4 separate regions of the Homo sapiens genome follow, and all the other regions are linked to region 1. The links come from fine-mapping of genetic effects on gene expression. A gene starts in region 1. Each other region holds a variant in brackets. All regions are shown on one strand. Distances are from middle to middle. Region 1 holds the start of VPS9D1 (VPS9 domain containing 1). Region 2 overlaps DEF8 (differentially expressed in FDCP 8 homolog). Region 3 overlaps TCF25 (TCF25 ribosome quality control complex subunit). Region 4 overlaps FANCA (FA complementation group A).

What was found.
Region 2: its variant is fine-mapped to the expression of VPS9D1 in naive CD8 T cells (Schmiedel 2018, PIP 0.95).
Region 3: its variant is fine-mapped to the expression of VPS9D1 in monocytes (Schmiedel 2018, PIP 0.95).
Region 4: its variant is fine-mapped to the expression of VPS9D1 in whole blood (TOPMed, PIP above 0.99).

Annotation. Positions count from the first base shown.
Region 1 is chr16:89,718,618-89,722,831 of GRCh38, reverse strand. VPS9D1 (VPS9 domain containing 1) reads left to right here and starts at 1,934. Exons shown (of 15, transcript NM_004913.3): 1 at 1,934-2,069; 2 at 3,730-3,805. The coding sequence starts at 1,971. It overlaps ZNF276 (zinc finger protein 276), which reads right to left and starts at 1,295. Exons shown (of 11, transcript NM_001113525.2): 1 at 987-1,295; 2 at 1-301. The coding sequence starts at 1,191. RefSeq lists silencers at 668-1,127, 1,208-2,327, a cis regulatory region at 3,637 and an enhancer at 3,553-3,722.
Region 2 is chr16:89,959,336-89,963,549 of GRCh38, reverse strand. DEF8 (differentially expressed in FDCP 8 homolog) reads right to left here. Exons shown (of 13, transcript NM_001242818.2): 7 at 2,455-2,619; 8 at 1,686-1,813; 9 at 1,425-1,538; 10 at 107-187. Among named protein-coding and RNA genes, the nearest start is that of SNORA119, 8.1 kb to the right of the region's middle. The variant C/T (reference allele first, on the strand shown) is at 2,120.
Region 3 is chr16:89,876,557-89,880,770 of GRCh38, reverse strand. The region is part of intron 1 of TCF25 (TCF25 ribosome quality control complex subunit); the gene reads right to left. Among named protein-coding and RNA genes, the nearest start is that of TCF25, 5.1 kb to the right of the region's middle. RefSeq lists an enhancer at 597-1,266. The variant T/AT (reference allele first, on the strand shown) is at 2,337.
Region 4 is chr16:89,748,228-89,752,227 of GRCh38, reverse strand. It overlaps FANCA (FA complementation group A), which reads left to right. Exons shown (of 43, transcript NM_000135.4): 31 at 6-90; 32 at 2,326-2,498; 33 at 3,461-3,569. Among named protein-coding and RNA genes, the nearest start is that of ZNF276, 29 kb to the right of the region's middle. The variant T/G (reference allele first, on the strand shown) is at 1,740.

The DNA.
Region 1 (4,214 bases):
GCACAAGGCTTCCGGCGACCAGCCGGGGAGGCGTTGACCCTCTGCAGGAAGGACTTGAGAAGGCTGTGGCACTGGTAGAACTGGGCGTGGCAGCTCTTGCAGACAAACGGAGACAAGGTGGGGTCCTGGCGGACAGCCACACCAAGCAGGCGCTGGAAGTCCCGTACGAGCACGCGCTCCTCTGCGGATGGCCTCTCCATGCTCGCTCCAGGCGCCCTCTCGGAGATGCTGCGCAGGCTTCTCGAGGAAAACTTCCCGTGGCAGAGGCGACAGTGACCCATGGCGAGAGCCCGGCCTGCTCCTGCACAGAGCGGCAGGAAGTGTTAGCAGCTGGCAAAGGAGGCTCCTGAGCACAGGGCGTCCCGGACTCCAGGTCCGAGGGCAGCGCCTGCAGCGCCCTTCGCGCGGCTCCCGGACACAGCAAGCGGCTCGGGCGCGCGGCTCTCGGCGGGACAAGCCGCCCTGTGGGGGATGTGGCCGCTGGTCCAAGAAATCTTTCAAATTTCAAAGGCCTCTAAGGCCTCTCCAGCGAAGCAACTTCAAGAGTGAAACCTGGAACTGCACCCTCCTCCCAGCGACCGCGAGACCCGGGGCAGGCGCTGCGCCCTCCAGGAAACGCCGCGGTTTCCTGTCTGCCAATTGCAGGTGCCGCCTCCTTTCCGGCTCCGCGAGGGCACGAAGCAGGGGAGGGCGATTCCCACGCGCGGGCACCCCAGGGCGACCTGCCCGCGGTGACAGCGCTCCTCACGCCGGGTCCCTTCTGGCCGAGCCCGCGGCCGGGGAGGCCGGGCCGGCGACGCCGGCGTCACGGAGCGCGAGGAAAACCGAGCCGGCCGCCCAGCGCCTATCCCGACGCAGCCCCGAGTCCGCTACGCCCTTGGCCGGGTGGAGGAGAGGCCGCGCCGGCTTCCGGGCGTCAGTGCGGCTCCTCCCACGAGCAACCCCTGCCGCGACCCCAACCCGCCACGCCCGGGCCGCGGACCCACCTGCCTCGTCCGCGCCGTCCTCGCCCGCGTCCCCGCAGGACCCCACCGGGCCCCAGGCGCGCCGCGCCGTCGCCCCGTCCACCCTCGGCCCACCGCTAAGGGAAGGGCGGCCCCGAGTCCGGCTGACGCCGCCGCCGCCGTCCGAGGCCCCGCACTGTCGGGACGACCCAGGAGACAGGAAGCGGCCCAGCCGGTCCCGCTTCATGGCAGCGGAGGACGCCAGCAGAATCCCGCGGGTGCTGCCCGGCCCGAGGTTCCTAGAGGACCCGGCGTTAGGCTCCGCTCGGCGCGCTGGAAGCGAGGCGGGGCGGGGGAGGGGCGGAGCGAGAAGCAAAGCGAGGCGGGCGGGGCGGGCCAGGGGCCAGGGGCGGGACCCCGCCGGCCGAGGTTCCACCCGCGGTGCCAGCGCCCCCGCTCGTACCGCTCCCCTCTCGGGCCCGAGGGCGGCCGTGCCCGCCTCTGTCGCCAATGGAGCGCTGGCCTGGGGCGGGGCGGTGGGCGGAGGGGCTCGCCGACACCTCACGACGAGTCCTCCAGGGAGAGGCGACGCGGCCCTCACCGCCTCTTACCGTGGGAGACGGAGGCGCGGGGCGGGCAGGCGCCGGCGGAGGCCACGCGGCGCGCAGGTGGCGGGCGGGCTGCAGAAAGGGGAGGGGGGCCGGGGTCTCACGTAGAGAGGGGCCTGGCTGCCGCGGTTAGACGCCCATGGCAACTCCGTGAGGGGCCCTTCTCGCCAGCCCCGTCTCAAGACGGCGAAGAGGCCCGGCTCCGTCGCGACAACCCACCCGGACTCTGCCGCCCCCGCCACTAACACCCGTGGGGCCCGCAGTACGCGCGGAGGGGGCCCGTCGCCGGAAGTGCGGCCGCGTCCCTTCCTGCGGTCCGCTGCTCGGGCGGCTCCAGCACCAGCGCCGGCTGCGTTCCGGGCCTCCGGTCGCCCGTCCAGCCCCTCGGCTACCGCCGCCGCCTCCCCCGCTCGGCGCCATGGCCGCTGCGGCCGGGGACGGCACGGTGAAGCCGCTGCAGAGCGCCATGAAGCTTGCCAACGGGGCCATCGAGCTGGACACCGGCAACCGGCCCCGGGTGAGGCGGGGCGGGGGCGGGGCTTGGCCGCTGAGGGTGGCCCCTGGAGGGACCCCCGCCCGGGGAGGGCGAGGACGGGGCCGGCTCGGGCTGGAGACTTGGGAGCGGGCGCCAGCCGGGATCCCGGGCCGCGGTTCCCGGGCGAGGACGGGGGCGGGGCGCAGCCGGGCGTGCAGTGACCTTGGACAGCTCAGATCCTGCGGACCTTGGCTTTCCACTCCGCTCGCTGAGCCGGTGCATCACAGCCTGGGCTCCACCTGTAGAGGAGATGTAGCAGGAGGGTCCGCCAGGCCACCTTCCAAAATCCGAGTGACGGGCAGGTCCGTGCGTTCGTGCATTTTTCTGGGCAGAGATGGTAGATTTAATCCGGTTGCCACAGGGGACGGCATGCAGAGAAGGCCACATACCTGCTCATTTGTGATGCTGTTTGCAGTCGTCTTAGGAAGGAAAAGCAGGCCGGAGGGGTGTGGCCCGTTCCTGAGATGGGGCCGAATCTAAGGTTGGCGACCAGGTAGAGAAGCTGGCCCAGCCACACCCGGCTGCCCAAGGAGGGAAGGAGCCTGCCTGTGCCTAGGAGAAGCCTCGTTCCTGAATCTGCTGCTTTCCCCAAGTTGGTTTTTAGGGCAGCAGGTGCCCCCGCAAGTCAGAAATCCTGCCTGGATTATATTTCGTCTTTCTCTCTGAGGCATAGACTTAAAGATAGGAAACTTAACAGCTAGGGATAAAACAAAAAAACATAGCATATTGCTGGGCGCTGTGGTTCACGCCTGTAATCCTGACACTTTGGGAGGCCCAGGCGGTGGATCACCTGAGGTGAGGAGTTTGAGACCAGCCTGGCCAACGTGGTGAAACCCCGTCTCTACTAAAAATACAAAAATTAGCTGGGTGTGGCGGTGCACACCTGTAATCCTAGCTCCTTGGGAGGCTGAGGGATGAGAATCACTTGAACCCAGGAGGCGGAGGTTGCAGTGACTCGAGATCCTGCCACTGCACTCCAGCCTGGGCGACAGAGTGAGACTCTGTCTCAACAAAACAAAACAAACCACCATTCTGTGGTTCCAATGACCTGTGCCTTGTCAGAGGGGTCACACAGCCTTGAAAGGTAACAGTTCTAGGCTCCTGTGTGCACTGGAAATACGTAACTCGCAGGTTCTGGGAAAGGGATTTCTCGGAACTTAAACCGGGAAGTGATTTGAAAACTTCCAGTATCACTCCCTTTATCCTCTCAGAAAAGTATTTTTTTAAGCCACTGAATGAATCACCCTTGAGTTGCACAAGAAGGAAACATTGCATAGAATGAAAAATGACAGCAAACTGCTGAGGTCACTTCCCCAGGCCCACTGAATGAGAATATCAGTTCCTGTGCTGGAGAGAAAGGCAGTCAGAGGAGAAAATGAGGTCCAGCTCGTCCCTGGCTCTCTCTCTCTCTCAGGTCCTGATGTCTTTTCCAAGTCTGGAGAGCAGCGATGCTGCCTGTGCCCTGCGCAGAAAACCGTGTTCCGGCTGCAGCTAACCACCGCAGGCTCAATGTCTCTGGGTGTATCTCAGAGATAAGCAGGTGGTGGTGTTCCTTGCTTATCCCACAAGGGCACCTGGCCGGAATAATGGAGTCACTTCCCTCCACTGGCCTGACCCCACTCTTTCTCTTTCCTGGACACAGGAGGCATACACGGAATACCTGAGGAGCATCCACTATATCTCCCAGGTGTTACTAGAAGAAGTGGAAACCACTAAAGGTACGGCTCAGCCAGCCGGGCGCGGTGGCTCACGCCTGTAATCCCAGCACTGTGGGAGGCAGAGGCGGGCTATCACCTGAGGTCAGGAGATCGAAACCATCCTGGCTAACATGGTGAAACCCCGTCTCTACTAAAAATCTAAAAAATCAGCTGGGCCTGGTGGCGGGTGTCTGTAGTCCCAGCTACTCGGGAGGCTGAGGCAGGAGAATTGCTTGAACCCGGGAGCAGAGGTTGCAGTGAGCCGAGATCACCCCATTGTACTCCAGCCTGGAACAAGAGCGAAACTCCGTCTCAAAAAAAAAAAAAAGAAAAGAAAAAGAAAAAGGCATGGCTGAGCCCTGCTGCTTCCTCCATGCTGGACAAATTGTGGGCATCCTAGCCCTTGATGGGTGCCAGGCTTCGGCGGGGG
Region 2 (4,214 bases), 240 kb before region 1:
CTAAAGGCACTCCACGCACAAGCTGTCCGGAAAAAACCTGAGCCTGAGGTGCCTCACCACCCTGGCTGCGCTTCCCATCGGGGGCCAGTCCTGCTGGCAGTCTGACCTGCAGCAGCAGACGAGCCTCCATGGCCTCCCTGCAGGTGATGAAGTACGGCTTCATGAGCAGGATGTCCTGGCGCAGCTTCTGCAAACAAGGCGGGAGCAGGCAGGCCTCCTCAGCCAGGACACAGGGCGGCCCCTGTGTGGGCCGCACACCCGGGGCCACGGCAGGGCCAGGAGGGGTTGGTTCCCCACGAAGGGCCGAGATCTGAGTGCTTCACCAAAACCCAAAATCACAGCTCCCAGGCTGGGCAGGACCGTGAGGCTCACTTACCGTGGTCCAGAAAACCCTCCCTTCCCTCTGCCCTCACCCGGCCCCACAGGCACACAACTGTCTAGGAACCAGCAGCCTCAGGACCAAGCCAAACTTCCGGAGAAATCCCAGCTGCCTCCCCAGCCCTGGCCTTGGCAACTCAACGTGCTGCCACAGTCTCCTCCCGGGTAAAATGGGACCTGCCTCCTTTCACTACCTGGCGTGAGACGCCATCATGTCCTGCCAGGACTGCAGCTCCCGTCTGCCCTCGGCTCCCGCCCTACCTCCTCCCTCACCGCTGGCTAAGAGAGTGGCCACCAGCCCTGCACAGCCACAGAGCACCTCAAAGTGGCCGCTGTGCAGTGAGACTTAGCAGAGGCTACATGCTGGAGCCAAAGACGTGGCACAAAAAAGAAAAAGAAAGCAAATATCTCAAAAATGTACATTGATTTCATGTTGAAATAACATTTTGGATATATTGGGCTAAATAAAATATACTATTAACATTAACTTCACTTGTTTCTTTTTACTTTTTTTTGAGACAGAGTTTCGCTCTTGTTGCCCAGGCTGGAGTGCAGTGACGCGATCTCGGCTCACAGCAACCTCAGCCTCCCGGGTTCAAGTGATTCTCCTGCCTCAGCCTCCCGAGTAGCTGGGATACAGGCACACACCACCATGCCCGGCCAATTTTGTATTTTTAGTAGAGATGGGGTTTCACCATGTTGGTCAGGCTGGTCTCAAACTCCCGACCTCAAGTGATCCACCCACCTCAGCCTCCCAAGTGCTGGGATTACAGGTGTGAGCACCGTGCCCAGCTCTTTTTACTTTTTTAACGTGGCTATTACAAAATTTAATATTGTGTTCACACCTGGCATCAGATCACTACGGGACACCGCTCCAGCACCTTCAACCAAAAGGGCAGCCGCGGCGCCTGGCTCACCCTAAGCAGGTGGCCTCCCTCCTCTGCTCAGAACCTCCCGTGGCCCAGAGGAGAAGAGGGTACTGGCCCGGCCCTAGGGCCCACCTGACACAGCGCCCCCGCCCCCCACTTCCATGGCCCCAGCCTCACGCGAATCTCCACCAGCTCCTCCACGTAGCTGAACAGCAGAGGGTTGATCTCCCGGAGCCTGAGTACGGGCCGAGACACCATCAGCGCCAGGTAGCGCATGCTGCAGCGAGAAACCTGCCAGGCACGGCCGGGTGACACCTCTCACACCCACCCAGGGCCCGTGCAGCGGGCAACACCCAACCAGGGGTACACCGGCTCCACACCCCAACCCCCTTCCTGCTCTCCCTCCCCAGGGGGATGCCCCCACCTTCCAACCCCCACCTTTCGAGGCTCAAAGTCCCAGTTGTGTACAACGCGTGCAGGGATCACAGCCAGGTCGTTCCAGTGGCAGTGGCTGCAGTAGTACTGGCCGGTGTAGTCGCACTGCCTGGCCTCACTGGGCACACCCCCTGCAGGGTCAGAGGGGCCCTGAGTGTCCCTGCCTCACAAAAACCCCACACAGCTTTCCAGCCTCATGGTCTGTCCTCCCATGGACCACAGCCCTCGGGGAGACATGGGAACATGTCCTATCCTCAGCCGGAAGACCTCAGGTGGTCCCAGCGTCTCACTGACCTGTTCTCTTATCAGTAAAATGGGATATAAACAGGGCCTCACTGTAGGACCGAGGCAGGGACTTCATGAATTAACACCAGCAACTCTCTAGAAAGAAGAGCTGACGCGCACATGTGCACAACTGGGCGACAACCGTGTACTCT[C/T]CCTAGACCCCGTCTATGAGGCTTTCTGTGCTGTGTGACTTCTCCCTAGTCCTCATCTATGAGGCTTTCACACGGGGAGGCGGAGGCCAGGTCCCAGCCCTCCAGGTGCTCCTCAGTGACCTGGGTGAGTCACGGAACGGCTGGAACCTCAGTCTGCTTCAGTGAGAAATGAAACAATGGCAGCAACAGACCCTTGTCACTTCCTAAAGATATCAAGCAGGCACTGCCCCAGGGCCTCACTCAACTGTCTGACTTACGTGCCCTTACACACCTGTGCACCCGGCTCCCCGCCAGGAACAGCTCCCTCACCCTCTTCTCTCCCTGCCACCACTCACGCAGAGAGATGGGCGCCCGGCACTCGGCACAGCGGTAATCCTGGCTGTCCAGCCCTGTCTCAGGGCAGATGTTCAGTTCGTATTCAGCTTGGTGGCTGACTTTGGAGCTCACACAGGGCTTGGAGATGAGGTTCAAGCACTTACTGTGACAGCGGTAATAACACCCTAGGGTGGAGGGACACACACTTCTCAAAAGCGGGAAGGGTGCGCCTGCAGCCCAGGCCACCCTCAGCTGGCTTGCCCCCTCCCCGTGGGTTCCACTCTGAGGCCCAGATCAATCTAAGACCTCCTGGCACCAAGGGAGGCCTTAGAACCTCAAAGATCCTTTTCTCCCTGGCCCCTGAGCCTTGCCCCAAAGGTGGCCCAGACCTTGTCCTCCAACTTGACTCACATGTTTGGGGCCAACCTGCCACTCCCACCACCAGACCCAACCTGTCCAAATGTAACAAACGAAACTCCCACCCCCGACCCCAAGCCCCTCAGCTTCCCCATCTCGGTTTCAGCAGCTCCACCCTTTCAATATCATGAGTTATCCTGAAGGGTTTCTCTCTCTCTGTTTTTGTTGTTGTTGTTTTTGTACTTTTTAAGAGACAGGGTCTTGCTCTTTTGCCCAGGCTGGAGTGTAGTCGTGCAATCAGAGCTCACTGCAGCCTCAGACTCCAGGGCCCAAGCGATCCTCCCATCTTTGCACTGGAAAACCCTAGGATTACAGGCGTGAGCCACCGCACTCAGTCAGACTATTTTCTAATCTGTTACATTCCGTTTCCAAACCTTCAGCTGGACTGCCCTTAGCGACTCCTCACTCCCACCACCTACCCCAGCCCAATCAGAGTCATCCCCCTCTTCTCAGTCACCTCCCTCTCAGTCCAAGCTCAGTCAGCAGCCACAGTAACCTATTAAAGCTCAAGTATGTCCAGCACCCACTTGTGGCCCCCACTGCACTTAAAGAAAAGCCCCAGCCACCTCTGAGCCCACCTCCCCCAGAAACAGAACTGCAGCCCCACCTGGCTCTCTGCTCCTCCTTATATCAACCACAGGGCTGCCCCCACCGGAACATTCCTCCAGACACAGAGCTGCAGCCACACCTGGCTCTCTGCTCCTCCTTATATCAACCACAGCACTGTCCCCACCGGAACAGTCCTCCAGACACAAAGCTGCAGCCACACCTGGCTCTCTGCTCCTCCTTAAGGCACTGGACACATCAACCACAGGGCTGCCCCCACCAGAACATTCCTCCAGACATATTGTCTTGGCTTGCTCCCTGACCTTCAAGTTTTTGCTTAAAAGTCACGTGACGCCGGCTGGGCGTGGTGGCTCACGCCTGTAATCCCAGCACTTTGGGAGGCCGAGGTGGACGGAACACAAGATCAGGAGATAGAGACCATCCTGGCTAACACGGTGAAACCCCGTCTCTACTAAAAAAAATACAAAAAATTAGCCGGGCGTGGTGGCGGGCACCTGTAGTCCCAGCTACTCAGGAGGCTGAGGCAGGAGAACGGTGTGAACCCGGGAGGTGGAGCTTGCAGTGAGCTGAGATTGCACCACTGCACTCCAGCCTGGGCGATTGAGTGAGACTCCGTCTCAAAAACAAAACCAAACCAAAAACAAACAAAAACAAAAAACAAAGTCACGTGATGCCTTTACATTCTGCCCTAAAGTCACATTCACTCCACCCTAACACGTGCTAGGTCCTTTCCCTTTTTCTTCATTGTACAAACTAGACACACCATGTAATTCACTAGTTTAATTTCTCATCCAGA
Region 3 (4,214 bases), 160 kb before region 1:
ATGATGTCTCTTAGTGAAGCTGGGTGCTGGTTTACTTGTCTGTTTTTAGAGATAGGGTCTCACTGTGTTGCCCAGGCTGGCCTCAAATTCCTGTGGTCAAGGGATCCTCCTGCCTCAGCCTCCCCAGGAGCTGGGACTACAGGCACACGCCACAACACCCAATTTACTTTTTTTTTTTTCTTTTTTTGAGATGGAGTCTTGCTCTGTTGCCCAGGCTGGAGAGCAATCGCATGATCTTGGCTCACTGCAACCTCCGCCTCCCGGATTCAAGTGATTCTCCTGCCTCAGCCTCCCGAGTAACTGGGACTACAGGCATGTGCCGCCATGCCAGGCTAATTTTTGTATTTTTAGTACAGATGGGGTTTCATCATGTTGGCCAGGCTGGTCTCGAACTCCTGACCTCAGGTGATCTGCCCGCCTCAGACTCCCAAAGTGCTGGGATTACAGGCGTGAGCCACCGCGCCCGGCCAACACCCAATTTACTTTTATTAACTCATGCTGACTTCCTAAGAAAAAAAATTCTTATTTTGAGGTGTTTGACAAATCGAATTCATAAAAAGCTCTATGCCAAGCTGAACTTCAATGGAAAGGAGCCTGTGTACACGGACAGCACGCGTGATGGGCTCAGGAGCCTGCCTGTGTACACAGACAGCACACATGATAGGCCCGGGAGCCTGTCTGTGTACATGGACAACACGTGTGACAGGCTCTGAAGCCCATCTGTGTACACGGACAGCACGTGTGATGGGCTCAGGAGCCTGCCTGTGTACATGGACAGCACGCGTGATAGTCCTGGGATCCTGACTGTTTACAAAGACAGCACACATGATAGGCCCAGGAGCCTGTCTGTGTACACGGACAACACGTGTGACAGGCTCCGAAGCCCATCTGTGCACACGGACAACACGTGTGACAGGCCCCGAAGCCCATCTGTGCACACGGACAACACGTGTGACAGGCCCCGAAGCCCATCTGTGCACACGGACAACACGTGTGACAGGCCCCGAAGCCCATCTGTGCACACGGACAACACGTGTGACAGGCCCCGAAGCCCATCTGTGCACACGGACAACACGTGTGACAGGCCCCGAAGCCCATCTGTGCACACGGACAACACGTGTGACAGGCCCCGAAGCCCATCTGTGCACACGGACAACACGTGTGACAGGCCCCGAAGCCCATCTGTGCACACGGACAACACGTGTGACAGGCCCCGAAGCCCATCTGTGCACACGGACAACACGTGTGACAGGCCCCGAAGCCCATCTGTGCACACGGACAACACGTGTGACAGGCCCCGAAGCCCATCTGTGTACACGGACAACACGTGTGACAGGCCCCGAAGCCCATCTGTGTACACGGACAACACGTGTGACAGGCTCCGAAGCCCATCTGTGTACACGGACAGCACGTGTGACAGGCCCAGGAGCCCGTCTGTGTACACGAACAGCACGTGTGACAGGCTCTGAAGCCCGTCTGTGTACACGGACAACACGTGTGACAGGCCCCGAAGCCCATCTGTGCACACGGACAACACGTGTGACAGGCCCCGAAGCCCATCTGTGTACACGGACAGCACGGGTGATAGGCCCAGGAGCCCGTCTGTGTACACGAACAGCACGTATGACAGGCCCCGAAGCCCATCTGTGTACACGGACAACACGTGTGACAGGCTCTGAAGCCCATCTGTGTACACAGACAGCACGGGTGACAGGCCTAGTTTTGCTTCTTCAGTGAAGTTTTGGTGATGACACATGATTTGCTGCAATCTCTACTGCCATGCATCAGCTCTAAAATGCTGTCAATCACCGTCAGACAAACCTTATTACTGGCTGGGCGCGGTGGCTCACGCCTGTAATCCCAGCACTTTGGGAGGCAGAGGTGGGCAGATGGCGAGGTCAGGAGATCAAGACCATCCTCGCTAACACGGTGAAACCCCGTCTCTACTAAAAATACAAAAAAACTTGCCGGGCGTGGTGGTGGGCGCCTGTAGTCCCAGCTACTCAGGAGGCTGAGGCTGGACAATGGAGTGAATCCAGGAGGCAGAGCTTGCAGTGAGCTGAGATGGTGCCACTGCACTCCAGCCTGGGCGACAGCGCAAGACTCCGTCTCAAAAAACAAAACAAAACACCTTATTACCTACCCAAAAGCTGTGATTTTCATTAGTTTTAGGGTCTCAAATGGGGAACATTTCACAAGGTTCTTGTCCACGACTGATCTTCTTTAGGATAAAGCTCGATCAGCATTTCAGTTAATAACCAGGAAGGAGTTTTATCTTTTTTTAGGGGGAGAGGAAAATGTCCATTTTTCCTAAAAAAAAAAAAAAAAAAAAAAAA[T/AT]GGTGATTTTTAATAGAGACGGAGTTTCACCATGTCGGCCAGGCTGGTCTCGAACTCCTGACCTCAGGTGGTCCACCCGCCTTGGCCTCCCACAGTGCTGGGATTACCGGCATGAGCCACCGCACCCAGCCTGAGGTTGTCTTTTTTTTTTTTTTGAGACAGGGTCTCACTTTGTCACCCAGGCTGGAGTACGGTGGCGTCATCTCACCTCACTGCAGCCTCGACCTCCTGGGTTCAAGCCATCCTCCCGTCTCAGCCTCCCGAGTAGCTGTGACCACAGGTGAGTGCCACTATACTTGGACAGTTTTTTTGTATTGTTTGTAGAGATGGGGTTTTGCCACATTGCCCAGGCTGGTCTCACACACCTGAGCTCAAGTGATGGATCTGCCTTGACCTCCCAAAGTGATGGGATTACAGGTGTCAGCCACCAACCCTAGCCTGGAATGTTTTATACTTTAAAAAATTCAGTATCTTTAATAGATAAAAGGGCTCAGATTTTTTTATTTCTTCACATGTCAATTTAGATAAGTTTTATCTTTAAAGGAACTTGCCCATTTGTCTAATCTGGAAAATTTATTAGCAAGAAGTTCCTTATCGCCCGTTACTATCTGCACCATCTGTACCTGTGAACACTCCTCTCCCATCCCTGAAAATGGTAACGTACCTGGACCTTCCCTTTTTCCCTCCATCAGTCAATCTAGAGTTTTTGCCAACTCGTCTTTTGAGAGAACCAAGTTTCGGTCTCACCGATTCTCTCCATCGTGTCCATACTCTATTCTGTGCATTCCCCTCTTTGATTAGTTTCTTCCTTCGACACATTTTGAGTTTAATTTGCTCTTTTTCTAGTTTAAGGTAGAAGTTTCAGGTAAATTTCTAGATTTTTAAACACTTTTCTAATTTAAAATTTACGATGATAAAGTTCTAATCATCGTTTCAGTTGCATCCCACAAATTTTGATAGGTTGCTATTTTCATTACCAATCAGTTCAGAAAAGATTCTAGGCCAGGCATGGTAGCTCACATCTATAATCCCAGCACACTGGCTTTCAAAAAAAATTGAAAAAATTAGCCAGGTGTGGTGACACCCACTTATAGTTCCACCTACTTGGGAGGCTGAGGTGGGAGGATGGTTTGAGCCCAGGAGTTCAAGATTACAGTGAGTTATAATTGTGACATTGAACTCCAGCCTGGGCAATAGAGCGAGACTCTGTCTCCAAAAAACCAAAACACACACACACCCACACACAGCAAAAACTGACAGGGTTGAAAGTAGAAATAGACAAATCCATAATTATTATTACGATTTATTTATTTATTTATTTATTTATTTTTTTGAGACAGAGTCTCGCTGTATTGCCCGGGCTGGAGCCTGGTGGCACAATCTCAGTTCATTGCAACCTCCACCTCCTGGGTTCAAGCAATTCTCCTGCCTCAGCCTCCCAAGTAGCTGGGATTACAGGCACCCACCACCATGCCTGGCCAATTTTTTTTTTTTTTTTTTTTTTTTTAGATGGAGTCTCGCTCTGTTGCCCAGGCTGGAGTGCAGTGGCACGATCTCAGCTCACTGCAAGCTCCGCCTCCTGGGTTCACGCCATTCTCCTGCCTCAGCCTCCTGAGTAGCTGGGACTATAGGCTCCCGCCGCCACACCCGGCTAATTTTTTTGTACTTCTTTAGTAGAGGCGGGGTTTCACCGTGTTAGCCAGGATGGTCTGGATCTCCTGACCTCATGATCCGCCCACGTCGGCCTCCCAAAGTGCTGGGAATACAGGCATGTGCCACCACGCCTGGCCCAATTTTTGTATTCTTAGTAGAGATGGGGTTTCACCATGTTGGCCAGGCTGCTCTCGAACTCCTGACCTCAGGTGATCTGCCCACCTC
Region 4 (4,000 bases), 30 kb before region 1:
TTCAGCTCAAGGAGTTATGACCACTCAGAAAATTCTGATTTGGTCTTTGGTGGCCGCACAGGAAATGAGGATATTATTTCCAGATTGCAGGTGAGTTTGAGGGTGCCACAACTCAGTGCATTCACTTCATTTAAGCCGCGTGCTATTAAGATATTTATTGCCAGGCGCGGTGGCTCACGCCTGTAATCCCAGAACTTTGGGAGGCCGAGGCAGGCGGATCACACAGTCAGGAGATCGAGACCATGCTGGCTAACACGATGAGACCCCGTCTCTACTAAAAATACAAAAATTTAGCCGGGCGTGGTGGCGGGCACCTGTAGCCCCACCTACTCGGGAGGCTGAGGCAGGAGAATGGCATGAACCCAGGAGGCGGAGCTTGCAGTGAGCCGAGATTGTGCCACTGCACTCCAGCCTGGGCGGGCGACAGAGTGAGACTCCGTCTCAAAAAAAAAAAAAAGATATTTATTGTTGGCTCAGGCTTGTAATCCCAGTACTTTGGGAGTCCGAGGCTGGTGGATCACCTGAAGTCTATACAGGTAGGCAGCATGTACCTGTGTGGGTTCACTGTCAGTCAACAGGCATTTACTGGTGCTGGCCACCCGTGCGTCTTCTGTGCCAGGCCCCTGTCTCTCCCTCCGCCAGCTCTGGGGCCTCCCAACTCCTTAGCCAGATGCTTTCCCTAGACCCACCTGGCTCCTTCTCAGTGAGACCATCTGCTTTTTCCTCTTAATTGTAATCATAATTATTATTATTATTGGGACAGGGTCTTGCTCTGTCACCCAGGCTAGAGTACAGTGGTGCGATCATATCTCTCTGCAGCCTTGACTTCCTGGGCTCAAGCAATCCTGACAGCGTGCACCTGTGTGCGCCACCACACCCAGCTGATTTTTTGTAGAGACGGAGTTTTGCCATGTTGCCCAGGCTTGTCTCGAACTCCTGGGCCCAAGTGAACCACCCATCTCGGTCTCCAAAATTGTTGGATTACAGGCGTGAGCCACTGCACCTGATCTTTATTCTTCTTTAAAAAATACAGCCGGCCAGGCACGGTGGCTTATGCCTGTAATCCCAGCACTTTGGGAGGCTGAGGTGGCTAGATCACTTGAGGTCAGGGGCTCAAGACCAGTTTGGCCAACATGGTGAAACCCCATCTCTACTAAAAATACAAAACACTAGTCAAGCATGGTGGTGTGTACCTATAGTCCCAGCTACTCAGGAAGCTGACTTAGGAGAATCAGCTGAGCTCGAGAGTCAAGGCTGCCATAAGCCAAGACTGCACTGCCGCACTCCAGCCTGGGCAACCGGACTGAGACTGTCCTAACAACAACAACAACAACAAAAGACTTGTGAGGCAAAAATGATGTGTGGGGTAAAATGTTAGCCAGAGGTTAATCTGGGTGAAGGGCACATGAGTGTCCTCCTGCTGTTTTTTTTTGTTGTTGTTTTGTTTTGTTTTGTCTGTTTGTTTTTGAGACAGAGTCTTGCTCTGGAGTGCAGTGGCGGGATCTTGGCTCACTGCAGCCTCTACCTCCCGGGTTCAAACTATTCTCCTGCCTCTGCCTCCTGATTAGCTGGGATTACAGGCGCCTGCCACCACACCCAGCTAATTTTTGTATGGCTAATTTTGTTGGCCAGGCTGGTCTTGGACTCCTGACCTCAGGTAATCCATCTGTCTTGGCCTCCCAAAGTTCTGGGATTACAGGCGTGAGCCACCATACCTGGCTGTTTTTTTTTGTTTGTTT[T/G]TTTTTGAGACGGAGTCTCACTCTGTTGCCCAGTCTGAAGTGCAGTGGTGCGATCTGGGCTCACTGCAAGCTCCACCTCCCGGGTTCACGCCATTCTCCTGCCTCAGCCGCCTGAGTCGCTGGGACTACAGGCACCCGCCACCATGCCCAGCTAATTTTTTTGTATTTTTTAGTAGCGACAGGGTTTCACCATGTTAGCCAGGATGGTCTCCATCTCCTGACCTCGTGATCCTCCTGCCTTGGCCTCCCAAAGTGCTGGGATTACAGGCATGAGCCACCACGCCCAGCTGTTTTTTCTTAATTGATAAGTAGTTGATAAGTAGTACTGTAACTCCTGGGCTCAAGGAATCTGCCTGCCTCGGCCTCCCAAAGTGCTGGCATTACAGACGTGAGCCACAGCACCCGGCCTGCACTGTTCTATATTTGCAATTTCAAAGTGATTTCCAATTGAAATAGCTTGCCCCACTTGTTCCTTCTTGCCCTGTCCACTGTGGAGACCTCTCCCTGACCCCTGACGTCTGGGTCCCCGACTGGCTGGGCAGTGAGCCCCGAGGCCTTCCTGTGCCAGCATACTGCTCTTTTTCAGGAGATGGTAGCTGACCTGGAGCTGCAGCAAGACCTCATAGTGCCTCTCGGCCACACCCCTTCCCAGGAGCACTTCCTCTTTGAGATTTTCCGCAGACGGCTCCAGGCTCTGACAAGCGGGTGGAGCGTGGCTGCCAGCCTTCAGAGACAGAGGGAGCTGCTAATGTACAAACGGTAACACCTACTACCACCTGGGCAGGGCAGCACCACCTGGGCAGGGCAGCATCTCATGACGGTCCTAGAGGTTCTTTGTAGTGAGTTTGTTTCCCGTTACTTACTTGTCTGTGTGTCCCCACCCCAAGCCTGTCCATTTCTGTGGCACATGCCACGGAGAAGAGGATCTGGAGGGTTGAAAGTACTTTTGATTAAAACCTTCCAGCCAAGCGAGGTGGTTCATGCCTGTAATCCTAGCATTTTGGGAGGCTGAGGTGAGTGGATCACCTGAGGTCAGGAGTTTGAGACCAGCCTGACCAACATGGCGAAACGCCATGTCTACTAAAAATACAAAAAAAATACAAAAAAATTTAGCTAGGTGTGGTGGCGGGCACCTGTAATCCCAGCTACTCGGGAGACTGAGGCAGGAGAGTGGTGTGAACCTGGGAGGCAGAGGTTTCAGTGAGCCGAGATCACGCCATTGCACACCAGCCTGGGCAACAGAGCGAGACTCTGTCTCAACAACAACAACAAAACCTTCCTGCTCAGACGTGGAGGGACGTCGCAGAAGGAGCTCTTGTGAAAGTAGGGAAAAGTGTTCAGAAATGCCCACGGCGGCTGCATTTATAAGAAGCAGCGTGGAGTCATTTAATTTTACAGTCATAGGGAATTGCTTCACTAGACAGACTGGTGCGTCATCCACTTGGTTATCGTGTAACTGTCAGAAGTTGTTGGTTATTATGTAACTGTTAAAAGTTGTTTGTTTGGTAACACATTTTGAATGCAGTGGGCCAAACACAGTATAGGGGAGGTGGGCTCAGAGTGCAGGCTTTGGATGGGACAGAGGGACACAGGCCAAGGCTCTGGTTCCAACAGTGGCCCTGGGTTTCAGGGTGGTGGTTGCTGCTCTGAGAGTCTGAGCCCTTGGGAAGGAGCAGAGTGTACGCTGTGCTGTCGCCACCAATACAGCCCCTTCTTTCCAGGATCCTCCTCCGCCTGCCTTCGTCTGTCCTCTGCGGCAGCAGCTTCCAGGCAGAACAGCCCATCACTGCCAGATGCGAGCAGTTCTTCCACTTGGTCAACTCTGAGATGGTAGGTGCCCCGTGTGCACGTGTCCGTCCGATCTGTCAGTGCCTGTGGCGCTAACAGCAGCTCTTGCAGCCTCCATGCGTGTACTGACCGTGTGAATTACTGAGGAAAGGGTTCAAAGTCAAATAGGGAACAGTGTCTGGAATGCCATGTGAGGGAGGACCCCACCCACAGCCAGGACGGCGACCAGCACATCACCAAACCAGCTGTAGGTTGCCTTCTCCCAAGTTTGAGTTCCTTTAGTTTCCCTCAAGTTTTAATGATTTTGACACATGGAATCGTACAGACCATTTTGTGTGCCACGCACCTCGGTTCATTTATTTCTAATCTCAACATGCTTCATGTGTAAAAAAAGCCTTGTGGTGATCTGACTACCGCTGTTGCCTGCCAGGCAGCCCAGTTATCTTCCATTTTAGACACTGCCCAGCGTGAGT